5 separate regions of the Homo sapiens genome follow, and regions 1, 2, 3 and 5 are each linked to region 4. Evidence: fine-mapped expression QTL. A gene starts in region 4. Each other region holds a variant in brackets. All regions are shown on one strand. Distances are from middle to middle.

Region 1 (5,101 bases), 190 kb after region 4:
TCTCATATCCTGCTGGAGACCAACAAGGGCCCCAGCTTCCCAACAGTCATGGTAATCCCCAGCGAGATGCTAAAGGGGACGGGAGCCCCAGGGGCCCGTGGGCTTACTGGGGCTGGTGTCTCCCCACAGGTGATACAGATGTACAAGGAAAGCCCAGAGATCCTGAGTCCACCAGCTCCACAGGGAGGCGGGCTTAGGTGGGGGGCATCCTCCTCCCTGCCCCAGAGCTTTGCCAGAGTGACTACCTCCATGACCGTGGCCATCCACCCACCCCCCCTGCCTGGTGCCTACATCCATCCAGCCCCTGATGAGCCCCCTTGGTCCCCTGCTGCCACTAGCTCTGGCAACCTCAGTTCCAGGGGACCAGGTCCAGCCACTGGGTGAAAGAGCAGCTGAAGCACAGAGACCATGTGTGGGGCGTGTGGGGTCACTGGGAAGCACTGGGTCTGGTGTTAGACGCAGGATGGACCCCTGGAGGGCCCTGCTGCTGCTGCATCCCCTCTCCCGACCCAGCTGTCATGGGCCTCCCTGATATCCATACAGAACAGCCACCGATTTGCACATCCAGGCCTGTGTGAGCCTGTATCTGTGTCACTTGAGAGTGAAAGCTGGCACTTGGGGCTGCAGTGCAGCCCTGTCCCCCTTCCCACCCCACACCACTGCCTGCCCAGCTGACCAAGCCTGAGGGACCCTCCAGCACCCTTCCGTCTGGTGACTCCTGGGCAGGCTCTCCATATCCCTGCCCACCTCCTACCACATCCATTATTTATATGAAAATGTCTATTTTTGTAGTATACATACATGTTAGCTATGATGAAAGTTTTATTTTTTAAAGAATGAAATATATTCTATGTGAACTAATCTCAGATGACTTCAGTGCTTTTTTTTGGACAGAGTGGGGAGTTTGCAAGTGAACATTAGCTATTGGAAGGAGCTTCTCTGGTGCCAGGACCTGAGGTATTAGCTTCTCTAGTTCTGGGTGGAAAAGACCCCAGATTCTGGATTTTTGTCATATACTTGGTAACATCATCTGGATTAAGTGCTTACTATACAAAACGATAACAAATTTTGTTGGTGTGAAATCCTACTGGGTTCAATCTGGAGACCGAGAGCAGAAAAAAAAGAACCCCACTGTGTGGCTTTCAGAGCCACCATATTCCAGCCTGCCCGTCTCTCCAGACTCACCTCCACCTACCTGCTTCACCCGCACGGGAAACGGCAAGGCAGAGGGGCAAAGCCATGCAGCAGGTGGAAGGCGAGGTGGAGGCAGATCAGGAAAGCAGCCAGTTGAAGCAGAGAGAGGTCAACAGGGTCTGGGGAGCTTCTCAGGAGGTTTGTGGACCCAGGGAAAGGAGCCAGGTTCCAGAGCAACCTCCAAGGCAAAGGCCTCTGTAAGTTGGTTGTCCTGACAGCCGAGAGGTGTCTTTGGCCAGTCAGCCAGTGGATCAGTTGCGGGAACTGCTCAGAAACTGAGGTGCTAGCAGTTAGTGAGGACACAGCGTAAGTTGTTTGTTCTGTGAAAGTTGAACAGCTCCACTAAGCAGAGGCCTTGAAGAGTGGCCACAGCCCTGGAATAGAGCACAGAGCCTCACCTAGAGGCGTGGGGAGGTTTGCAACTGCCCCTTCCCAGCCATAGCTTAGGACCCATAGTCTAGTTCACATAGACCCTGGGCTCCAACCACCCACTCACCAGGAATGATCCCACCCCAGGAACAATGCGTTCTCACATCCCACCCCACCTGGACAAAGGCCAGGAAATCATGTTCTGACCAAAAGATACAACAACAAAAACAACAACAACAAAAAACGCCTATTGCAATTGAATCCACGCTAAAATGCCTAAAAAGCTCAAGAGAAGCGGGTAGTTGGCAGAGAACCTAGAGTAGGGGGTGCAACCAGCAGGCCCAAGGGAGGGAGGCTGCATTTGGGTCCAGCAGTGTTTGGGTCACCAAGAAGGGCCTTCTAGGTGGAGCAGAGAGAGCTCACCAGGCCAGAATAGTGCAAAGGGGGTCAGCCCTCAGTGCCACTTACCAGCGGAGTAACCCTGGGCAAGTTAGCCAGCCTCACTAAGCCTCCTCATCTTCATCTTTCCAGGCCCGAGGAGATCTAGCCTCTGCCTCCCACCCCAGCACCCCCTCATCAGACACACGGAGCGCCACTGTCTGGACAGGCTGAATTGGTCTTCGGGTCCCTAATTTCTCATACGCCATTCCCTCTGCCTAGAACACTTTCTCACCTCCCCTTGATGTGACCCCATATCACCCTTCGAGGTGAATTGGATCGGATGCCATCTCCTCCAGGAGGGGTGGGGTCGTGCCTCCTGTGAGGTCCCAGTGCCCCTGAGTGTCTGTGCCCGTCTGTTTCCCCGTCCCTCTCTCTAAGCCCGGAGGCTTACTGCGGGTAAGGACGGCGGGACAGGACCTTAACCCCTGGGACGAACACCAGCTCCGCAAAGGACTCCGCACCCGGCGCCGCCCACGGGGTGCGGGTCCCAGGAGGACCAGCAGAGAGGAGCATAGGAGAGCAAAGGAGATCAGTGACCCATGGCTTCCCCGGTGGCGCGGAACAGCCCGGAGCCGCCTGTGATTTGCATACCCATGGTGCACCACGAAAAGATACCCTCAAGATGCTTGCACTCCCTCTGTGCGCGCATTTCTGCACTGTTTTAGAGCATGATGCCTCTTACACGCATCTGTGTGCATAAACTACATATAGGGAGTGCGTACCACGCAGGCATCCAACAACCATAAGTGTGTTAAGTGTTAGTTCTCCCTGCGAGGTTCGAAGCGGAAGTCACGAATATACTCGGGTTTCTCTTCAAAGCGCATAAATCTTTCGCCTTTTACTAAAGATTTCCGTGGAGAGAAAGTTGTGAGTTTTTATTCAATTTTTTGAGGCCTCTTATTTCCTGAGGCTAC[A/G]TTTTTAAGTATTAAAAGTTAGGCAACTACAACCAAGGAACTTGGTCATTTGTTATTTGTACCAAATGTTCACAAACTTATTCGGGCGTGGTGGTGCCTGTTTGCAATCCCACCTATTGGAGAAGCTGGGGCGGGAGAGTCTCTTGACTCTAGAAGACGGAGGTTGTAGTGATCCGAGATCGCGCCACTGCCCTCTAGTCAGAGTGGCAGAGACTCCTGGGGCGGGAGAGTCTCTTGACTCTAGAAGACGGAGGTTGTAGTGATCCGAGATCGCGCCACTGCCCTCTAGTCAGAGTGACAGAGATTCAGTGTAAAACAAAAAAAAATCAGAAGTTTGCGTGACACCTTGTTTTGAGCTACATTTGGGGTTTATTGGCTTCTGCAGTGTGCAGTAAGACTGGCTTCTATTGTTTATTTCTTGCGTTTTTGTTGCATTTCGTTGCAGATTTAAGAGATAAACAGTGGAAGGCGCTTTCAAGTCGTCCGGTCATTAATTAAGCCTTATTGTGGCTAGAGGTTCAGGGGCGGTATATCGCGCCAACCAAACTCCTTGTTCTATTCCCAGAGACAGTAGCTGTTAGCGGTTTGGTGTGGCTCTTCCAGACTGATTTTTTTTTCCCAACTCGATTGCGAATCCAAACACAGTTTATGTGGTGAAGAGACAAGGTTCCTTCTCCTATGGAGCTTTTTTCTTTTGAGATGGAGTCTCACTTTGTCACCCAGGCTGGAGTGCAGTGGCTCAATCTCGGCTCACTACAACCTCCGCCTCCCGGGTTCAAGCGATTCTCCTGCCTCAGCCTGCGGAGTACCTGGGACTACAGGCGCCCGCCACCACACCCGACTAATTTTTGTATTTTTAGTAGAGACGGGGTTTCACCGTGTTGGTGAGGATGGTCTCGATCTCCTGACCTCGTGATCCGCCTGCCTCAGCCTCCCAAAGTGCTGGGATTACAGGTGTGAGCCACCACACCTGGCCCTTTTCTTTCTTTCTTTCTTTTTTTTGTTTTTTGTTTGTTTGTTTGTTTGTTTGTTTGTTTTTGAGAGGGAGTTTCGCTCTTGTTGCCCAGGCTGGAGTGCAGTGGCGCGATCTCGGCTCACTGCAACCTCCACCTCCCGGGTTCAAGCGATTCTCCTCCTCAGCATCTGGGATTACAGGCGCACCACCACGCCCGGCTAATTTTTGTGTTTTTAGTAGAGACAGAGTTTCACCATGTTGGCCAGGCTGGTCTCAAACTCCTGACCCCAGGTAATCCGCCTGCCTCGGCCTTCCAAAGTGTTGGGATTACAGGCAAAAGCCAACGTGCCCGGCCCCTATGGAGCTTTTCTAATAGAACCAAACACAAAACAAATTGAATAAATAATATAAATCCCAGATAAATAATATCTCAGTGAGAAGTGCCCTGTAGAAAGAGCATTTTGATAGAATGGTCTACCTCCTTCCTATTCCCTCTCCATAAGGGAGCTCACCTACTTCCATGGCTTTAAGTAAATGCCATCTGATAGCTAGTGACCCCCCAGTTTACAGCCATCAGCTAGTCCTGTTGACTCCCTTCCATCAGCTGGTCCTGTTGATACCTTCAAAGCGTACGCTTCATCCAACCACATTTTACCACCTCCACTGCTGCCATCCTGGTCCAAGATCTCTTGCTGGATAATTGCAATAGCCCCTAACTGTTCTCCCTAGACCACTCTTCTACCTCGCTCTTGCCCTTCTCAATTCCAGTCCTCCACATAACGGCCAAATTCTTTTTTTTTTTTTTCTGAGAGGGTCTTCCTGGAGTGCAGTGGCTGGAGTGCAGTGGCACAATCTCAGGCTGGAGTGCAGTGGCGCAATCTGAGTTCACTGCAACCTCCACCTCCCAGATCCAAGCAATTCTCCCACCTCAGCCTCCCAAGTAGCTGGGACTGCAGGCGCGTGCCACCACACTGGCTAATTTTTGTATTTTTTGTAGAGACGGGATTTCGCCATGTTGCCCGAACTGGTATCAAACTCCCAGATTCAAGTGATTCGCCCACCTCACCCTCCCAAAGTGCTGGGATTACAGGCAGGAACCACCATGCCCAGCCCAAATTATTCTTTTAAACTAAATCTGATCACACATCACTGTCCTGCACAAAACCCTCCAATGCCTTCCCCCATGACACATAGCTCCCTGCAGATCTCTTGTCAAATGTTATCTCAT
Region 2 (5,101 bases), 270 kb before region 4:
GTTTTGTCTCAGAGGAGTACCCGGCCGTGTGAGGTGTCAGTCTGCCCCTACTGGGGGGTGCCTCCCATTTAGGCTATTTGGGGGTCAGGGAACCACTTGAGGAGGCAGTCTGTCTGTTCTCAGATCTCAAACTCCGTGCCGAGAGAACCACTACTCTCCTCAAAGCTTTCAGACAGGGACATTTAAGTCTTCAGAGGTTTCTGCTACCTTTTGTTTGGCTATGCCCTGCCCCCAGAGGTGGAGTCTACAAAGGAAGGCAGGCAGGCCTCCTTGAGCTACAGTGGGCTCCACCCAGTTCGAGCTTCCTGGCCGCTTTATCTACTCAAGCCTCGGCAATGGCAGGTGCCCCTCCCCCAGCCTCGCTGCTGCCTTGCAGTTTGATCTCAGACTGCTGTGCTAGCAATGAGGGAGGCTCTGTGGGTGTAGGACCCTCCCAGCCAGGCGCAGGATATATTCTCCTGGTGTGCCGTTTGCTAAGACCGTTGGAAAAGCACAGTATTAGGGTGGGAATGACCCGATTTTCCAGGTGCCGTATGTCACCCCTTTCTTTGACTAGGAAAGGGAATTCCTTGACCCCTCGCACTTCTCGGGTGAGGCGATGCCTCGCCCTGCTTCAGCTTATGCTCAGTGCACTGCACCCACTCTCCTGCACCCACTGTCCAACACTCCCCAGAGAGATGTACCCGGTACCTCAGTTGGAAATGCAGAAATCACCCGTCTTCTGTGTTGCTCACACTGGGAGCTGTAGACGGGAGCTGTTCCTATTCGGCCATCTTGGCTCCACCAACCAGTGTCATTAACTTTAAAAAAGATGGTCAAAAGAGAAGTAGGGGTAGTTCTTGACTTAATTACAACCTGTAATTTTGTACATTACACTTTGATATCTCTAAATAAAGCTTTTTTTTTTTTGGGATGGAGTCTGGCTCTGTCGCCCAGGCTGGAGCGCAGTGGCACGATCTCTGCTCACTGCAAGCTCCGCCTCCTGGGTTCACGCCATTCTCCTACCTCAGCCTCCCAAGTAGCTGGGACTAGAGGCACCTGCCAACACGGCAGGCTAATTTTTTTGTATTTTTTTTTTTAGTAGAGATGGGGTTTCACTGTGTTAGCCAGGATGGTCTTGATCTCCTGACCTCGTGATCCACCTGCCTCAGCCTCCCAAAGTGCTGGGATTACAGGCATGAGCCACTGCACCCGGCCTAAATAAAGCATGTTGAATGTTTGCACATCTGCTGATAAGTGAACATTTTTATCTCATACTGTGCTAAGCAATTCTGGTTTTGCCAACTTTGTCAGTACAAGATGATTTGTACAGCTATTTGATTTTTTTGTGCATTTTACTGGTATTTTATATAAATAAGTGGGAAATGGAAAAATGAAGTTGCTGATAGTGGTGACAAAATGCATATTTTATAAATTTATTACAATTGAGATCCAATAGCCACCATTAAGTTATGCTGAAAATGCTGACTCTTCATGCTAATTTGGATGCCCATTGGTGTTTATTCAGTTCATTCTGTGTTGATTTGCAAGGGAAAAAAATTAAAGAACATGTACTCATACAACCTAATAGTGAGAAAACAATAACTAAATTTAAAAATGGGCAAAGGAGTCTGGGCACAGTGGCTGTTGCCTGTAATCCCAGAACTTTGGGAGACTGAGGTGGGAAGATCGCTTGAAGCCAGGAGTTTGAGACCAGCTTGGGCAACATAGTGAGACCCTGTCTCTATAAAACACAACCCCCCCTTTTTTTTTTTTAGATGCAGTCTCGCTCTGTTGCCCAGGCTGGAGTGCAGTGGCGCCATCTCAGCTCACTGCAAACTCCACCTCCCAGATTCAAGCGATTCTCCTGCCTCAGCCTCCCAAATAGCTGGGATTACAGGCACACACTACCATGCCCAGCTAATTTTTGTATTTTTAGTAGAGACACGGTTTTACCATGTTGGCCAGGCTGGTCTCAGACTCCTGACCTCAAGTGAGCTGCCTGCATAGACCTCCCAAAGTGCTATGATTACAGGCGTGAGCCACAGTGCCTGGCCTCTACAAAAAAAAATTTAAAAAATTTGTCAGACATGGTGGCATGTGTCTGTAGTCCTAGCTACTCAGGAGGCTGAGGCAGGAGCATCACTAGAGCCCAGGAGTTCAAGGTTGCAGTGAGCTATGATCGCAGCACTCTAGCTTGGGTAACAGAGGGAAACCCTATCTCAAAATCAAAAAAAGAAAGAAAGAAGAAAGAAAGAAAGAGAGAGAGGAAGGAAGGAAGGAGAAAAAGAAAGAAAGAAAGAAAGAAAGAAAGAAAGAAAGAAAGAAAGAAAAAGAAAGAAAGAAAAGAAAAGAAAAAGGAAATTGTAAACTTTGTGAAAACACTTCAAAATGTTTTTTATAAAATACTGAAAAGGGAAACAACAAAAATGACCAATATGTTAGGGGTTAAACATATGACATTTTCTAGAAGATTGGGGCTGATGAAATATTTACTTTGCTAATCTGCAATGTATATGGGAATGCTATGGGAAAATAGCATTAGAATCAACAACACAAATAATTATTAAAGTATTAGTGCCATAGTGCATAGTTACCTGTTTTTACCTTAAGACCACATCTCGATAAATGTGAGCATTCCTTTCTCTAAATTTGCTACTTACGATGTGAAAGCAGCTCTTTTCCAAATGATCTAGAGTATAATTTTTAAGAAATCAGAAGAATTGTGTTGTTAGCTATTAGCTACTATTGAAGCTATTTCACTTGCAAAGGAAGGAAAGCAAACCCACAAATGTTGAGCAAATGCCAAAATGCCAAAAAGGTCTTACAAAATGGTACAGAGACCACAGGGAAACAGCTGTGTTTCTGACAAGCAGCGTGCTCCATCCTGGAAATACAGGAATTAAAGGAGTTAATGAACATGAGGAAG[G/A]AAAGGGAAGTATGATCCAGTCTTGGCTAACTTTCACCTTGGAGGAGCTAATAACAATTCTAGAAATAAAGCAGCAGGAGGAGAAACTACTGATAAGGGTAGCTCAAAATTTGAGGCCCGTGAGATTAAATCTGAGCCAATTTTGCTTTATTTTTGCTGAAGATTTTTTGCAGAGATGAATGCTGTTTGTATTTGAGAGTTGAGAAGACATAATTTACTTATTTATTCAGTCAGCAAATGTAAGAGGTGCTGGGGATCGTAATGTTTGAGGGAGACTTGAAGTTTCGTATGATGGATGGGCCAAGTGACGGTGCTGGGGATTGTGTGGGGTGTTCCAGGCAGAGGGAACAGTGTATGGAGAGGCACAGAGGATGGGCAGATGGTGATGGTAAAGGAATGATTTTCTCTATGTAATAGTGGGAAGGAAAAATGTTGCTCTTCAGAAAGATAATTCCTGGCTTATTATCACTTCCAGGGAAGGGACAACATTCGCAGCACGGATAGGTGGTTCTTTTTTGTTTGTTTTTTCGCTCTTGTTGCCGAGGCTGGAGTGCAATGGCATGATCTCACTCACTGCAACCTCCACCTCCAGGGTTCAAGCTATTCTCGTGCCTCCGCCTCCCGAGTAGCTGGGATTACAGGCATGCGCCACCACGCCCAGATAATTTTGTATTTTTAGTAGAGATGGAGTTTCACCATGTTGGTCAGGCTGGTCTTGAACTCCTGACCTCAAGTGATCCACCCACCTCAGCCTCCCAAAGTGCTGGGATTACAGGCGTGAGCCACCGCGCCTGGCCAGGTGGTTCTTTTTATTGAGGAAACAGCCAGTGATTCTTGGGAGGGGTAAGGAAGGGAGGGGGAGGTATGAGATAAAGAGAGCAGAATTGCTCTGCTCAAGAAAGGAAGAAGTGAGAGGAATTTGGAGTTTGGGGCAGCCTGGGGGAATAGGCCTGAGAAAGTTGGAGAGAGGGGGTCAGTGAGGAGAATAAATGAGAAGATGGGAAGGTCCAAGGAAGAACCTTAGGTCAAATAGAGAAGTCATCATGAGCTGGAGAACAGGAGAAGCAGAGATAAGGGGAACACGAGATTTTTCCAAGGAATATACAAAACACAAAGTTTTTTAGCACAGACTTCCACATTGTGTGGGACAGGGCTTGAGTAATTTTTTTTTTTTTTTTTTGACACTGTGTCTTGCTTTGTAACACAAGCAGGAGTGCAGTAGCATGATCATGGCTCACTGCAGTCTCAAACTCCTGGGCTCAAGTGATCCTCCTACTTCAGCCTCCAGAGTAGCTGGGACCACAGACACCCACCACCATGCCCAGCTAATTTTGTATTTGTTTTTTTGTGGAGACAGAGTCTCATTATGTTGCCCAGTCTGGTTTTGAATTCTTGGCCTCCAGTGATCCTCCCACTTCAGCTTCCCAAAGTGCTGGGATTACAGGTGTAAGCCATCACTTCTGGCCTGAATTTTTAAAAATTTTTATTTATTTATTTTATTTTTTATTTTTTTTGAGGCGGAGTCTCACTCTGTCACCCAGGCTGGGATGCAGTGGCGTGATCTCGGCTCACTGCAACCTCTGCCTCCTGGGTTCAGCAATTCTCCTGTCTCAACCTCCCAAGTAGCTGGGACTACAGGTGCGCACCACCACACCTGGCTAACTTTTGTATTTTTAGTAGAGATGGAATTTTGCCCCATTAGCCAGGCTGGTCTTGAACTCCTAACCTCAGGTGATCCATCCTCCTTGGCCTCCCAAAGTGCTGGGATTACAGGCGTGAGCCACCGTACCCAGCCATTTATTTATATTTTCATGGACAGAGTCTTGCTCTGTTGTAAGCTACTTAAGAGACAGGGGTGGGAGGATAGCTTGAGCCTGGGAAGCGGAGGTTGCAGTGAGCCAAGATGGTGCCACTGCACTCCAGAGTGAAGACAGGGGAGACTCTGTCTCAAAAAACAACAAAAAAAAAAAAAAAAAAGAAAAAAGAAAAGGAAGAAAGAAAATCCCTAGATATAATGGCTGTGCCACTTTGAGTCTGCAGTGAGCTACGATTGTGCCACTACACCTAGGCTGGAATGCAGCGGCACAATCATAGCTCACTGCAGCCTCAAATTTCTCACCTCAAGAGGTTCTCCCCTCTTGGCCTTCCAAAGTGCTATGATTACAGGAATGAGCCACTGTACCCGGCCCCTAT
Region 3 (5,101 bases), 93 kb before region 4:
CCCAGACAGGGCGGCCGGGCAGAGGCGCTCCTCATATCCCAGATGGGGCGGCCGGGCAGAGGCGCTCCTCACTTCCCAGATGGGGTGGCCGGGCAGAGGCGCTCCCCACATCCCAGACGGGGCAGCCGGGCAGAGGCGCTCCCCACCTCCCAGACGATGGGCGGCCAGGCAGAGGCGCTCCCCACCTCCCAGAGGGGGCGGGGCAGAGGTGCTCCTCACCTCCCAGACAGGGCGGCCGGGCAGAGACGCCCCTCACCTCCCAGAGGGGGCGGCCGGGCAGAGGCGCCCACTTCCCCGACGGGGCGGCCGGGCAGAGACGCCCCTCACCTCCCAGACGGGGCAGCCGGACAGAGGCGCTCCTCACCTCCCAGACGGGGCGGCCGTGCAGAGGCGCTCCTCACCTCCCAGACGGGGCGGCCGGGCAGAGGCGCTCCTCACCTCCCAGACGGGGCGGCCGGGCAGAGGCGCTCCTCACTTCCCATTCGGGGCAACCGGGCAGAGGCGCTCCTCACTTCCCATTTGGGGCAACTGGGCAGAGGCGCTCCTCACTTCCTCCCAGACGGGGCGGCCGGGCAGAGGTGCTCCTCACTTCTCAGATGGGGCGGCCAGGCAGAGGTGCTCCTCACATCCCAGACGGGGCGGCCGGGCAGAGGCTCTCCTCACATCCCAGACAATGGGCAGCCAGGCAGAGACACTCCTCACTTCCTAGATGGGGTGGCGGCGGGGCAGAGGTGCTCCTCACTTCCCCGACGGGGGCAGCCAGGCAGAGGCACTCCTCACTTCCCATTCGGGGCAGCTGGGCAGAGGTGCTCCTCACTTCCTCCCAGACAGGGCGGCCGGGCAGAGGCGCTCCTCACTTCCCAGAGGGGGCGGCCAGGCAGAGGCACTCCTCACTTCCCATTCGGGGCAGCCGGGCAGAGGCGCTCCTCACTTCATCCCAGACGGGGCGGCCAGGCAGAGGCGCTCCTCACTTCCCATTCGGGGCGGCCGGGCAGAGGCGCTCCTCACTTCCCAGACGGGGCGGCCGGGCAGAGGCACACCTCACATCCCAGACGATGGGCGGCCGGGCAGAGACGCTGCTCACTTCCTAGACGGGGTGGCAGGCAGGCAGAGGCTGTAATCTTAGCACTTTGGGAGGCCAAGGCAGGCGGCTGGGAGGTGGAGGTTGTAGCGAGCCGAGATCATGCCACTGCACTCCAGCCTGGGCAACATTGAGCATGAGTGAGCGAGACTCCGTCTGCAATCCCAGCACCTCGGGAGGCTGAGGCGGGGAGATCACCCGAGGCCAGGAGCTGGAGACCAGCCTGGTCAACACGGTGAAACCCCGTCTCCACCAAAAATACAAAAACCAGTCAGGAGTGGCGGCGCGTGCCTGGCATCCCAGGCACTCGGCAGGCCAAGGCAGGAGAATCACCGGAGCCCAAGGCAGGGAGGTTGCGGCGAGCCGAAGATCTCAGTCTTTTAAAATACACATCTAATTTCCTTGTAGGGGCACAAGTGAAAGAACACTAGAAAACTAGGTAAATGCAAGGTTATCGCTGTAAGTGAATACCTGGGCTTCGGAAGCCTCATTGTTCTTGAACTGTGGTTTCTGGTACAGATGGAGAACAGAGACCACTGGCTGCTGAAGCTGGTGCTGAGGGGGGCCAATGGCTGTTCTTCGGAGGTTAATACAGGGAAAACCACTTGATTTGCCAGAGGAGTCTGGGAGGGGAGCAGATGGCCGCAAGAAGGGCCCTCTAGCTTACTCAGCTGCTCTGAGAAGCTTAGGGTGACCTCTATAATACAAACAAACCAAGTAGTTCTCAGGGTAATGGGGCAGCATCATTTGTATTCCCAAATAACAATACTGCTCCTCACTTTGCAATCTCTCGCACCCTCACCCAGTGTTTGGGCACCATCTGCTTCTTGTGAACTTATATAGGCCCCAGGCGTGGCCAGTTGGGATTGCTATTGAATGATATCTTTGGGAAATGTGTTCTTTACAAATTACTTTCACATGAGTCTGATAGGCAGCTAAGTAGTATTATGTCTATTTGCATAATTAAGAAACTGAGGCAAAGAGGAATTGAGGGGTACTAGAATTACAACTCAAGCATTCTGATTCCTAATCTGTTTGTATCGATAGTATATGGAGCCATTCCAGTGCTCTTGTTTAGGCAGTTGTTACCCAGCTTTTGAGAAAGGCTTTCTGGAAAGGAAATTAGTTATTTTATAGATGTCACTCTCATTGTTTTAATTGTTCTGGTTACTGTTTTGCTAAGTGACAAAAAGGAGAGAAAGAGTGGCTGCTTTACTTCTGCTGGTATACTGCTGTGGCCTTCCGGGAGACAGGAATTAAGTGAGAAGGTCTAATTTATACTATGCAGTTTCATCAAAACCAAATTTATTCAAGAGGAAGCTTTCTCAGTCAAAGAAGTTACTTAGTTTATATATTTGCATATCCTTTTTAACTGACTATAAGAAAAAATATTCTTTTCATAAACCACATCTCTTCTTTTCCCTGCTATTGGCTGAAATGATAATCATTTTCATGCATTAACACCTGCCTAGGGGCCTGGTGAATCAAAAGAGCAATGAGAAAAGTGGTTTTAATTGCCCAAGCTTTACTAGAGCCTTTCTTGCACTCAGAAAAACAAAAGGCTTTGAATGGTGTCAAAGGGCTGCACTGAGAAGTGCTTTCCTTTAGAACTCTAAGCAGATGATTCACTCATGTCCTGATACATTTTCTTGTA[C/T]AGATGAGTTCATGAGCCCACCTTCATTCCAACTATGAGAGCATCACAGCACTTGTCAGTTTCAGTTACCTTGAACATTTGCCCAGGAAAACAGGCAAATGTCAGAGTTTACTGACTTGTTATTAGTGCAGGACTCTCTGTCTTTGTAGAATTACACTTGCTAATTACCTTTACAAAGTTTTGTATACAAATTTAAACTTCAGAGTCATATTTAATATATTGTAGTCCTTAAGAATATAGGCTCTGGAGCCAGACTACCTGTGTTCAGATCCCAACTTTACATTTTACAGGTTGTGTGATCTTAGACAAGTTCTTCTATCTCTCTTATCCTAGTTTTCTTATCGGAAACAGGGAAATAACAACAGAATCTACTTTGTAGGGTTGCTTTGAGCATTTAATTAGTTAATTAGTTAATACATGGGAAGCACTTAGAATACTATCTGTCATGTAGTAAGTATATCCAGTAAATGTTGGCTGATAAAAACTGCTTGTATTTTATATTTTTGAAAATAGGTTATAAAAATTGGCAGAAGCATAACAGGCATAAATATCAATTATGAGCCGGGCATGGTGGCTCAGCTCACACCTTCAATCTCAGCACTTTGGGAGGCCAAGGCAGGAAGATCAGTTGAGACCAGGAGTTTGAGACCAGCCTAGGCAATATAGCAAGACTCATCTCTACAAACATTAAAAAAATAATAATTAGCCAGGTATTGGTGGCGCATGCCTGTGGTCTCAGCTGCTTGGGAGGCTGAGGTGAGAGGATCACTTGACCCTGAAGGTCGAAGTTGCAGTGAGCCGTGATCATGCCAGTACATTCCAGCCTAGGCGACAAAGCAAGACCCTGTACCCCCACCAAATAAATAAATAAATAAATAATTTAAAAATCTATATACATACATTATGGAAAATAATCTTGGTGTTTCAATATTATACCAAATATACAAATTATTGTTACTTTGCTCACCGTCTCAGTAAAATTATTTAATTACTGGCTTATTTTAATCACAAATCAGGAATTTTATAAACATGCTTAATCCTCTGTGAACTGTAGATATAAATATGTAAAAGATTCAGTTTAGTGTTCATTTATTCATTCATCCATACACAGTCAGTTATTAAGTCCTTACCATGTGCCTGAGATGAAAATATAGAGATGAAAAAGATATACATAACTCCCTTATTCAAGGAACTCACAATCTAAAGGGAAACGATAAATGTGAAGACAATTACATTGATGTCAAGTACTATAATGGAGATATGACTGATGAAAAATGAGTGCTTAGGAAGAAGCACTTAACTAGCTGTCCAAAAAGATGAGGGAAGACTTCCCAGAGTAGGGGCTCATTTGAGTCAAGAATTAGCATGAGAAGGAAATGAGAAGGTCATGCCTGGTATAGGAAACTTCACATGCAAAGGCATAAAGGATAAGAAAATGGAGAAAACAGCATAGTCAAGAATCTGCAAATAGTTTGGTGTGTTTGGAATGTGGGAGAGTGGTATGAAGCAAGTCTGAAGAGATAGAAAGAAATCATATTGTAAGAAGTTTGAACTTTATCTTGTAATCAGTGGAGAACCATTGAATGATTTTAAGCAATTCAGTTCAGCAAACACTTTTATAAATGTTTACTCTATGCCAGACTGTTAGGTAACAGAAATATAAAATACATAGTTCACAGTTTTTTTTTTTTTATTATACTTTAAGTTCTAGGGTACATGTGCACAATGTGCAGGTTTGTTACATAGGTATACATGTGCCATGTTGGTTTGCTGCACTCATTAACTCGTCATTTACATTAGGTATTTCTGCTAATGCTATCCCTTCCCCTGCCCTCCACCCCACGACAGGCCCTGGGATATGATGTTCCCCGCCCTGTGTACAGGTGTTCTCATTGTTCAACTCCCACCTATGAGTGAGAACATGCGGTGTTTGGTTTTCTGTCCTTGTGACAGTTTGCTCAGAATGATGGTTTCTAGCTGTATCCATGTCCCTGCAAAGGACATGAACTCGTCCTTTTTATGGCTGCATAATATTCCGTGGTGTATATGTGTCACATTTTCTTAATCCAGTCTATCACTGATGGATATTTGGGTTGGTTCCAAGTCTTTGCTATTGTGAATAGTGTTGCAGTAAACATACATGTGCATGTGTCTTTATAGTAGCATGATTTATAATCCTTTGGGTATATACTCAGTAGTGGAATCTCTGGGTCAAATGGTATTTCTAGTTCTACATCCTTGAGGAATCGCCACACTGTCTTCCACAATGGTTGAACTAGTTTACACTCCCACCAACAGTGTAAAGCATTCCTATTTCTCCACATCCTCTCCAGCATCTGTTGTTTCCTGACTTTTTAATGATCACC
Region 4 (5,101 bases):
GAGACAGGTTGCTAGGTGGCAGACTGAAGGCATAAATCTTTCCCTCTTTTGTGGACCCCTCACCTGCAGAGTCAGTTCACAGCAGGCCTCAGGAGAGCGACACGTGCTGAAAAAGTCCTGGGCAGCCCGGGTTTCCCTAAACTCTGCATACAGAGGGAAGACAGGGCTCAGCCTTGAGGCCCTCCAGAGCCCTCCCCTGCCCCTCGAAAACTTTTCTCCCTCCGGAGTTTTATCTAGATTTCCAGACCCTGACTCTTACCTGGTAAGTAACGGCCTGCCTGGCGCATGCACCAAACGGGAGTGTAGTCTGTTTCCTCTCCCCAGGCTGCTCGCAGGAATGTGTCATTCTTCAGCTCCGGAAAACCCTGAGGTCTGGCGATCAGGTGGGGGTGGGGGTAGGTGTCAGTATGCTACGCTGGAGGCTGGGGAAAGCGCGGGTTCATAAGGCCGATTCAGTCCAGGACCGCTATCTACCTCCTCCAGGCCAGCTCCCAAACCCTGGCTTTCCGCCCGTTCCGCCTCCTCTCTGCCTATCAGGTGGTGCACAAACTCCAGAAGGGCCCGCCCTGGGGCCTCTTCCCTCCACTTAGTCTCTACTCTTCCAAGCTCGAAGCAACCAGAGGGACTGGGGGGAGGGAATGAAGGCCCACTAAGGATAGTTTGGGGGTCTTCGAACTAGTGAGCCTCAGAAACGGGAATGTCACTGGGCTGGTTCAGGGGCTGAGAAATACCCAGGCTGGGGGATAAAGAGGGATCAGAGTTGATGGTCCCAGAATAGAGATCCTGGTTGGAAATCCTGAGGCATCCCTTGAATTAAGGCCCTGGGATGAACATCTCAAAAATCCATGGTTTTAGGATTCAGGATCCCAGCTAACGGAGTTCAGGTTGGGAGGTCTCCAGGGTGGGGAAAGGGGAGTAGAGGGATAGAGTCCTGAGTTGGAAGACTCAAATTAGAAGCCCGGCTAGCCACACCGCGTGCTCTGGAGAACTCACCCCAACCCATTCGCTTCCATGGTCAGCTGTCTGTAACTGCGAGCTCAATCCACAATTTAACCTGAATCTGAGCCTGCCCCCCAGTCCAGGCTCCGCCCCTTTCTGTAGGGAACCAAGAGCGTCGCCATGTTGAAGATCACATGATCGGACTCCAGCGACAGCTCCAGGGCTGCCCTGGCTGCTGCCCGTAGGACCCCTACCTTTTTTCACCGTAAAGTTTGCTGTAGCGACGCAACAACAAAGGCCCAAAAGAAAACTCCGCTGTAAATGTATCTTACGGTGACATGAGGAATTTGTTCTCATCTGACAGTCTGGGTATCCGGAGGCTTGGCGCAAGTCCCACTCATGATACCAACAGTCTTATCCAGCCAGGTCCATACTATAGCCTGGACCTATAGTAGGTGCAGAGGTTAGCTCTGCTCAAGACAGCCCCAGCCTTTAAGGAGCTACAAGACTGGGGAAACAGAAATCAGCAATCACATTAAAATGAATAATGATCTCCAGTGTCCTTGGGATTAGGAGTGACAAACAGAATCAACCCTAATGACTCAAGACTCCTGTCAGTGGCAGGGGAAGGGGCCATTGTCTCAAACACTTTAATCACACCACCCATAGGATAGGGAGTCCAGCAGATTCGCTGGGAGTGGGAGGAAAAACAGCAGGCCGAAGAACCAGAAAAATGACTGTTGGCAATGACCCAGGCTAGCTAGAATGGTGACTTGAATGAGGGTAGTAGCAGTAGAGATAAAATGGTAGTCACAAGGAAATGGAGAGAGGGAGATTGATCAGGTAGCAATCACCAATCTTGGGTTTGGTCGGCTGGGTTAGGGTGGCACAGAGATAAGTAATATGGTTGAGTGTGGGAGTACACAGTCCAATACAGTGAGAGCTGGGGTGCGCTTAGTCCAGAACATACGGCAAAGGCTGGCCAAAGGCGGGGAAGGGCGTGGTGGGAAGCTCTGTCCGCGGTCGCGCCAGCTGTTCCCCGGGCAGGGTCGCCTCTAGGTGCTCACCTCCGCCACTTCGCCATGGCGGGTCCTGGCCCGGGCGCGGTGCTGGAGTCCCCCCGGCAGCTGCTGGGCCGCGTGCGCTTCTTGGCAGAGGCAGCGCGGAGCCTCCGCGCCGGGCGGCCGCTGCCAGCAGCGCTGGCTTTCGTGCCGCGAGAGGTGCTCTACAAGCTTTACAAGGACCCAGCGGGACCGTCGCGCGTGCTTCTGCCGGTGTGGGAGGCAGAGGGCCTGGGGCTGCGTGTGGGCGCCGCAGGCCCAGCCCCCGGTACCGGCTCCGGGCCCCTCCGCGCCGCCCGCGACAGCATTGAGCTCCGGCGCGGCGCCTGCGTGCGCACCACGGGCGAGGAGCTGTGCAATGGCCACGGGCTCTGGGTGAAGCTGACAAAGGTGCGCTCTTCCCTGCCCAGGACCCGGTAAAAGACCCCTGGGGCCAGAGAAACCTCTGGCTGTTTGCCTTTTCTCCCCTGTATTGAGTTGGCATTGCGTTCGGCGCCCTTTGCCCTGGGCTGGGCACGACAGGCGGCTGGGCAGTTCCCTGACGGCTGTCCCCATCCTACGCGTCCCGGCAGGAGCAGCTGGCAGAGCACCTGGGCGACTGCGGGCTGCAGGAAGGCTGGCTGCTGGTGTGCCGCCCGGCGGAGGGCGGAGCCCGCCTGGTACCCATCGACACTCCCAACCACCTCCAGCGGCAGCAGCAGCTCTTTGGCGTGGATTATCGGCCGGTGCTCAGGTACTGCACTTGAAGGAGCGGGGCTGGCTGTCAGAAGGCCGGGCCAGGAGGGCTTGGGAACACTTCAGCCACAGCCTGGGGTGGGTGGGATACTGGAGCGGAGGCAGGGTTAAGAGCAGAAAGGGGCGGGACGTGAAGGGGGCTCGGAGGGAGACTGGGAGATAGAGCCCTGAAGAAGGCTACACGGCATGGAGGTAGTGTCTTGCTGACCGCTGATGTCTCCCCATCCCACTCCCTACTCTGTGCCCACAGGTGGGAACAGGTGGTGGACCTGACATACTCACATCGCCTGGGATCGAGACCTCAGCCGGCAGAGGCATACGCAGAAGCTGTACAAAGGCTACTGTGAGTGAGCTGGAATGGGGTGGGGAGGAAGGAGCTCTGCGTCTGGGCCCAGTCTAATTAGGGGCTTGGGGTTGCTTAGCTATGTACCCCCGACATGGACCTACGAGTGCGACGAGGACCTGATCCACTTCTTGTATGACCACCTGGGCAAGGAGGATGAGAACCTGGGTAGCGTGAAGCAGTATGTGGAGAGCATAGACGTTTCCTCCTACACGGTGGGTGCTGGGGCTCCTCCCACCCCAGGCAAGATATAGTCACACCCCTCAAGGCTAGATCCAGAAAGAACCCCCACCTGCAGGCCAGGACTAAAACAGGGTCCCCACAGGCCACACTCAGTTCAGCTCCCCATCTTGGACGTCTATAGGACCCCTTACATACCCAGCGGCCCCCTATCCCATACCAGTTGCCTGTTAGCCCAACTTCACTATGCTTTCTCTCTGGTGCTCCTGGCCCAGAGCACAAGCCCAGTGCAGGGAGGGAGGGTAACTGCTGACTTCACGTCTCTGCCCCTCCCCAGGAGGAGTTCAACGTGTCCTGCCTGACAGACAGCAATGCCGATACCTACTGGGAGAGCGATGGGTCCCAGTGCCAACACTGGGTACGGCTTACTATGAAGAAGGGCACCATTGTCAAGTAAGTAGGCTCTGGGCAGGACAGGGTGGGTGGGCTATGTCCCTGTGGGTTCACAAAGACTCATATTCACACTCTGACCCTTCAGGAAGCTGCTACTCACAGTGGATACCACAGATGACAACTTTATGCCAAAGCGGGTGGTGGTCTATGGGGGTGAAGGGGACAACCTGAAGAAGCTGAGTGACGTGAGCATTGACGAGTGAGCACGCTGGCCTGGGGAGGGAAGTAGGGCATGTTCCAAGCCTAGCCCAGCTTGAAAGCCTAAGTTTGAGTGAGACTCCAGCAGTCTCTGAAGGCCTGAGGCAGGAGGTATCTGAAGTGCTTCACACTCATCTCCTCAGGACCCTCATCGGGGATGTCTGTGTCCTGGAGGACATGACCGTCCACCTCCCGATCATCGAGATCCGCATCGTGGAGTGCCGAGGTGAGGTTTAAGGCTATAAGGAGGGAAAGAGAGCCCGGCGTGGAGATGGGGGCAAACAGAGAGTGTGTGTGGAGAGAAGAGGATGGGCTTGGAGTTGGGGTGAAGGCGATGCTGAACTAACTCCAGGATTTGGAGCTTTGGGGCCTGAGCCAGCTGGGACATGCCAGGTATAGGCCTGCCTTAAAGCCATACAGGTGGTTGGGCTCACCTGGAAGAGGAACTGAGTTGGGACCCTCAGGCATCCCAGCATTCTAGTGGAAGACAGAGGAATCAGCAGGAATAGATCAATCAGAATCAGGTGATAGAAGGTGATCCCGAAGGTCCCGAGTTTCTAGGGGCTAACGGTGACACAAGGCTGAGCGTTCAAGGAGCCGGTCCCAGGTCTGAGGGCCAAGGAGGCAGCAGGTGCTGTAAATGACCTTACTCTGACCCCTTCCCCCAGATGATGGGATTGATGTTCGTCTCCGAGGGGTCAAGATCAAGTCATCTAGACAGCGGGAACTAGGGTTGAATGCAGACCTGTTCCAGCCAACTAGTCTGGTGCGATATCCACGCCTAGAAGGCACCGACCCTGAAGTACTGTACCGCAGAGCTGTCCTCCTGCAGAGGTGGCTGTGGTCCTGGACCTATGGGCCCTTCCCTTCCCCCAACATTGAGCCTTGTGTGTCTGCATGGAGGAGGTTCCCAAGGTCTCATAGTATAAGCTGTTCAAGGGTCAGAGAAGCCCCCAGGTCCTGCCTTTTCCTGTCCCTTTATGTTGGGGAGTTGGGGGTGTTACAGGTATGCTAAACTCTTTAGCTGCAGTCTATCTACCCATGCCAGATTCATCAAGATCCTCGATAGTGTCCTGCACCACCTGGTACCTGCCTGGGACCACACACTGGGCACCTTCAGTGAGATTAAGGTGAGCCGACCCAGCCAGTGCTGGTCTTGGCATTTCCCCTTCCTGCTCACGTAGTTGTTCAT
Region 5 (5,101 bases), 23 kb before region 4:
CCGCCCCTCTACTAAAAATACAAAAATTCGACAGGTGTTGTGGCATGCTCCTGTAATCCCAGCTACTTGGGAGGCTGAGGCAGGAAAATCGCTTGAACCGGGGAGGCGGAGGCTGCAGTGAGCTGAGATTGCACCACTGTACTCCAGCCTGGACAACAGAGCAAGACTCTGTCTCAAAAAAAAAAAAAAAAAAGAAAGAAGACTCTACCAAGCCTAACCTAAAGAATTTGGTGCCCTGTTGCCCTCAGATATGAATGAAAGCAGACCCCCTGTGTACCAGCATGTACCTGTGGCTGCAGGCTCCCCAAACAGCAGTGAGTCCTACCTGTCATTGGCCCTGGAAGTTGCACTGATGGGCCTGGGTCAACAGAGGTTAATGCCTGAAGGCCTCTACGCACAGGACAAGGTATGCCGTAATGAGGAGCAGCTCCTGAGCCAACTCCAAGAGCTGCAGCTGGACGATGAGCTAGTGCAAACACTGCAAAAACAATGCATCTTACTGCTGGAAGGTAAGTAGAAAAGAGTCTCTTGTCACGGTGTCTTTGGCCCATGACCCTGAGCTCCCCTCTCCAATAGAGTACAAGTACAGGAACATTTATGACATTAAAATGTAGTGAATGAAGGTTCCCATGATTAGCAAACATGCATGAGATACTGGGGCTCAAGTCCAGGCTGGCAGATGGAAGCATACAGATAAATAACTGGCTGGCTTATCTTCCTCCAGGAGGTCCTTTCAGCGGTCTGGGAGAAGTCATCCACCGAGAGAGTGTTCCCATGCATACCTTTGCCAAGTATTTGTTCTCAGCTCTGCTGCCTCATGATCCAGACCTGTCCTATAAATTAGCCTTACGTGCCATGAGGTGGGTAGCCCTTTCCCAGTCCAATTGCCTCCACCAAAGCAGAAGTGTCCAGTGCTCTTTTTCATTGCTTATTTCACTTTCTTTTCTTTCCCTCTTTGTCATTCTGTTGGACCCGCTACCAAGTGTACCTTAAAATGGCTCAGATATTTTTATATGATCTAGGATTCATATCTGGATTCCTTGTTGGTGACTTGGTTCCCTGGCAGTACTCATGGTTGATTGTCTGAGGAAGCCCCTGAGATGTTAATAAATAAGGAGCACTTAAGACCTGAGTCTTCCTGTTCAGTGGTTATTCAGGCAAGCTGAGAAGGGGTCTGAGCCCTTCTGTAGTTCAACTCAGTCAAGGTTCCCAGGCACAGGTCCCCAGAAGAAGCTGGGGGAAGTAGAGATAAATATGTTTACCCCAAGACTTGAGAACAATGAGCTATGGGCATCTTGTTTCCAGGCTAGAATAGGATCCTTGGTTTAGGCAGTTAAACCTCTGGGATGTAGCAGACTATACAGAAGAAGAATTTTAGTCAGACTGTAAGGCTGGGAGAATACCTTAGCTAAAACAGGAAATTCCTTGGCATGTATTTCTTATACTTTTAGAAATAACCAGGCTGGGTACGGTGGCTCAAGCCTATAATCCTAGCACTTTGGGAGGCCGAGGCAGGTAGATTGCTTGAGCCCAGGAGTTTGAGACCAGCCTGGGCAGCATGGTGAAACCCCATCTCTACAAAAACAAAAAATACAAAAATTAGCCAGGCATGTTGGTGCACACCTGAAGTCCCAGCTACTCAAGAGACTGAGGTGGGAGGATCGCTTGAGCCTGGGAGGTCGGGGCTGCAGTGAGCTGTGATTATGCCACTACACTCCAGCCTATGCAACAGAGAGAGACACTGTCTCAAAAATAAATAAAATAAACAACCCTATGATTCTTTTTAAAAATGTATTAACTTTTCTCTCTTTTTACAATATATCATACTATTCAACCCGATAGCTCTTGAACGGCCTTTCACATCCATTTGTAGTGGAAACTATTCAGCGTTGAGTACTCTTAAGTGCCCAGGCACTCACCTCATATAGTGTATAGTACCATAGGTTTAAAAACCTTCAAAGCTCTTAGTTAATCCTTTCCTCTCCCCAGTTCCTCCCCAGCAAAGAGCAAGCTTCTCTAAGGTGGCTCGGAAGCCCAGGGTCTGGATGGTGGCTGATGATTCTTCCTGGGTCTTCCAGGTTACCTGTTTTAGAAAACTCAGCTTCTGCAGGCGACACATCCCACCCTCACCATATG[G/A]TGTCTGTGGTGCCCAGCCGTTATCCTCGCTGGTTCACGCTTGGACACTTGGAATCACAGCAGTGTGAACTGGCCTCCACCATGCTGACTGCTGCCAAAGGTGAGCATAGATAGACCTTAAGCTCCAGCATCACCCGTCTGCCTGCCCAACCATGGCATGTCAAAGGCTTGGCCTGCAGTCTCCTGAGAAAGAGAAGCTCCTTGACCATTTAGAGTGATAGTGGTCCTCACTTTGATTGCTGCCATTAGAAAGAGCACCTGGCCAGGCGCGGTGGCTTACGCCTGTAATCCCAGCACTTTGGGAGGCCGAGGCGGGAGATCACGAGGTCAAGAGATCGAGACCATCCTGGCCAACATGGTGAAACCCCATCTCTACTAAAAATACAAAAAGTAGCCGGGCGTGGTGGCGGGCGCCTGTAGTCCCAGCTACTCGGGAGGCTGAGGCAGGAGAATGGCGTGAGGCAGAGCTTGCAGTGAGCCAAGATCGTGCCACTGCACTCCAGCCTGGGTGACAGAGCAAGACTCCGTCTCAAAAAAAAAAAAAGCACCTGGATCCAAGCCAAAACTTTACCCTAGTTACTAATTGTAGGATACCAAATATGTAAAATTAAATGATCTTTAAGGTACTTCTAAGTCTAACCTTCTGTTTGATAAAATCACTTCACCTTTCTACGCCTCAGTTTCAAATCTATAAAATGGGGATCATTGTCAATGACCTGTCAGCCTCCCAGGGCCACTGGAAGATCTAATGAAGTGATGACTAAGATAGAGCTGAACTCCTTACAGATATAAGAGTTGGTGATTTTTTTTTCAGTGCCCTGGTAAAAGATAGGCAGTCCAAAGTGATTCTCAGGCCTTTAAGCTCACATACATCCTGTTAGCTATGCAGGTTTCACCACAAACAGAAGTGAAAGTAAGCCCCTATATAAGAAGGAGCTATGATAAAATGCTAGCCACCATGAGCTCCTGAATATTTTAGACCAGGAAACTACATGGATTTTGAAGTTATTTTTTAATTAAAAATAACTTTATGTGGTATCTTCTTATTGTCCCCCCAAAAATACATGCTTATTAGAGAAAAGGTAAAAGTTACATATAAATTAATATAAAAATGATCAGCAAACAAATACAAAAATAGAACAAAGCATATGATCAGACAGTTCACAGAAAAGGAGATACAAATCGTTTTTAGACAACTAAAATACCTGGTATCACATTAGAAATACAAATTAAAATTAGCCTGAGATAACATTTTTTACTGATCTTATTGGCAAAAAACAAATCTGATAATGTGCATTCATGTGAGGAGTGTCAAGTGGGGAGTGGCGGTAGCCTGCATGGAGTATCAGATTCCAAGCAGGATAAGGAGGAGGACTACAGATCTAAGGAAATCAATGAACCACAAGCATAATAAACATGAAGAAAACTATACCATGGCACATCATAACCAAAATGCTTAAAACCAATAATAGAAAATCTACTTAAAAGCAATCAGAGTAAAAAAGATACATTACAAAGGACAAAAAAACAAGTATGGGAACAGATTTCTCATTAGAAACAATGTAAGCCAGAAAACAGTGGGAAAAAAAACCCTTAAAGTACTTTAAAAAAAAAAAAAATTATCAGGCCAGGCACGGTGGCTCACACCTATAATCCTAGCACTTTAGGAGGCCAAGGCGGGCAGATCACTTGAGATCAGGAGTTTGAGAACATCCTGGCCAACATGGTGAAACCCCTGTCTCTACTAAAAATACAAAAATTAGCTGGGCGTGGTAGTGCACACCTGTAGTCCCAGCTACTCAGGAGGCTGTGGCACGAGGATCGCTTGAACCTGGGAAGCAGAGGTTGCGGTGAGCCGAGTTGCACCACTGAACTCCTGCCTGGGTGACAGAGTGAGACTCTGTCTCAAAAAAAAAAAAAAAACAAAAACTGTCAAACTAGAATTTTATACCAATGAAAATATATTTCAGAAACAAAGATGAGGCCAGGTGCAGTGGCTCACACCTGTAGTCCCAGCACTTTAGGAGGCCAAGGCAGAAGGATCACTTGAGACCAGGAGTTTGAGACTAACCTGAGCAACATAGCAAGATCCTGTCTTTACAAAAAATTTTAAAAATTAGCCAGGTGTACTGGCAAGCACCCGTAGTCCCAGCTACTCAGGAGGCTAAGGCAGAAGGACTGCTCAAGCCCAGGAGTTAAGAGACTACAGTAAGCTACCATCATGACACTGCACTCCAACCTGGGTGACAGAGCAAGACCCTGACTCTTAAAAAAAAGAGAGATGAACTAAAAATCTTTTTCAGACAACCACAGTTCAATTAGAATTCGATAATAAAAAGATATTTTAAAATATCTTAAGTTTTTGGAAATTAAACCACATACGTGTATATTACTCATGGAGCAAAGAAAAAAATCACAAGAAAATTAGAAAATCTTTTGACTATATGAAAATGAAAGCACAAGTCAAAATTTGTAGAATGTAGCTAAGGTTTTACTTATAAATTTTTAGCAATAAATGAAAAATGCTTCAAATCAGTGATCTCAGATTTCACTTTTTTTTTTTTTTTTTTTTGAGATGGAGTCTTACTCCGTTGCCCAGGTTGGAATGCAGTGGCGTGATCTCCGCTCACTGCAAGCTCCACCCCCTAGGTTCATGCCATTCTCCTGCCTCCGCCTCCCGAGTAGCTGGGACTACGGGTGCCCGCCACCACGCCCGGCTAATTTTTTTGTATTTTTAGTAGAGGTGGGATTTCACAGTGTTTGCCAGGATGGTCTCGATCTCCTGACCTCGTGATCCGCCCACCTCAGCCTCCCAAAGTGCTGGGATTACAGGCGTTAGCCACTGTGCCCAGCCCAGATTTCACTTTAAGAAGTCAGAAAAAGAAAACCCAAGGTAAGCATAGGGAAGGAAATAATAAAAATGAGAGCAGACAGGTGCGGTGGCTCATACCTGTAATCCCAGCAC

Which allele goes with the higher level. Alleles are on the strand shown, and positions count from the first base shown. SD is a standard deviation of normalised expression in the study named. Not every link is listed here.
In carriers of allele A in region 1, the expression in skeletal muscle of the gene that starts at base 1,955 in region 4 tends to be higher than with G alone (large effect, 1.7 SD a copy in FUSION).
With allele T in place of C in region 3, the expression in whole blood of the gene that starts at base 1,955 in region 4 is lower (moderate effect, 0.41 SD a copy in GTEx).
For the expression in testis of the gene that starts at base 1,955 in region 4, G is the high allele of the variant in region 5 and A is the other (large effect, 0.78 SD a copy in GTEx).

What was found.
Region 1: its variant is fine-mapped to the expression of HECTD3 in skeletal muscle (FUSION, PIP 0.95).
Region 2: its variant is fine-mapped to the expression of HECTD3 in whole blood (TOPMed, PIP above 0.99).
Region 3: its variant is fine-mapped to the expression of HECTD3 in whole blood (TOPMed, PIP above 0.99).
Region 5: its variant is fine-mapped to the expression of HECTD3 in testis (GTEx, PIP 0.94).

Annotation. Positions count from the first base shown.
Region 1 is chr1:44,817,698-44,822,798 of GRCh38, reverse strand. PTCH2 (patched 2) reads left to right here. Exons shown (of 22, transcript NM_003738.5): 22 at 130-861. The coding sequence ends at 384. It overlaps LOC107984952 (a long non-coding RNA gene), which reads right to left and starts at 2,320. Exons shown (of 2, transcript XR_001738036.3): 1 at 2,237-2,320; 2 at 805-1,568. It also overlaps the pseudogene RNU5E-6P. RefSeq lists enhancers at 417-1,072, 1,073-1,730, 2,387-3,043, 3,050-3,099, 3,130-3,229 and 1 more and a silencer at 2,420-3,139. The variant A/G (reference allele first, on the strand shown) is at 2,919.
Region 2 is chr1:45,280,250-45,285,350 of GRCh38, reverse strand. No RefSeq gene overlaps it. Among named protein-coding and RNA genes, the nearest start is that of LINC01144, 21 kb to the left of the region's middle. The variant G/A (reference allele first, on the strand shown) is at 2,909.
Region 3 is chr1:45,101,366-45,106,466 of GRCh38, reverse strand. All of the region lies in intron 1 of ZSWIM5 (zinc finger SWIM-type containing 5), which reads left to right. Among named protein-coding and RNA genes, the nearest start is that of UROD, 92 kb to the right of the region's middle. The variant C/T (reference allele first, on the strand shown) is at 2,736.
Region 4 is chr1:45,008,178-45,013,278 of GRCh38, reverse strand. HECTD3 (HECT domain E3 ubiquitin protein ligase 3) reads left to right here and starts at 1,955. Exons shown (of 21, transcript NM_024602.6): 1 at 1,955-2,390; 2 at 2,573-2,733; 3 at 2,986-3,078; 4 at 3,158-3,293; 5 at 3,596-3,711; 6 at 3,797-3,910; 7 at 4,053-4,135; 8 at 4,578-4,743; 9 at 4,958-5,039. The coding sequence starts at 2,022. UROD (uroporphyrinogen decarboxylase) reads right to left here and starts at 1,025. Exons shown (of 10, transcript NM_000374.5): 1 at 994-1,025; 2 at 260-372; 3 at 64-143. The coding sequence starts at 1,013. RefSeq lists enhancers at 929-1,058, 1,099-1,148 and silencers at 1,909-2,038, 2,119-2,288.
Region 5 is chr1:45,031,447-45,036,547 of GRCh38, reverse strand. It overlaps ZSWIM5 (zinc finger SWIM-type containing 5), which reads left to right. Exons shown (of 14, transcript NM_020883.2): 9 at 249-509; 10 at 725-860; 11 at 2,079-2,236. Among named protein-coding and RNA genes, the nearest start is that of UROD, 22 kb to the right of the region's middle. The variant G/A (reference allele first, on the strand shown) is at 2,137.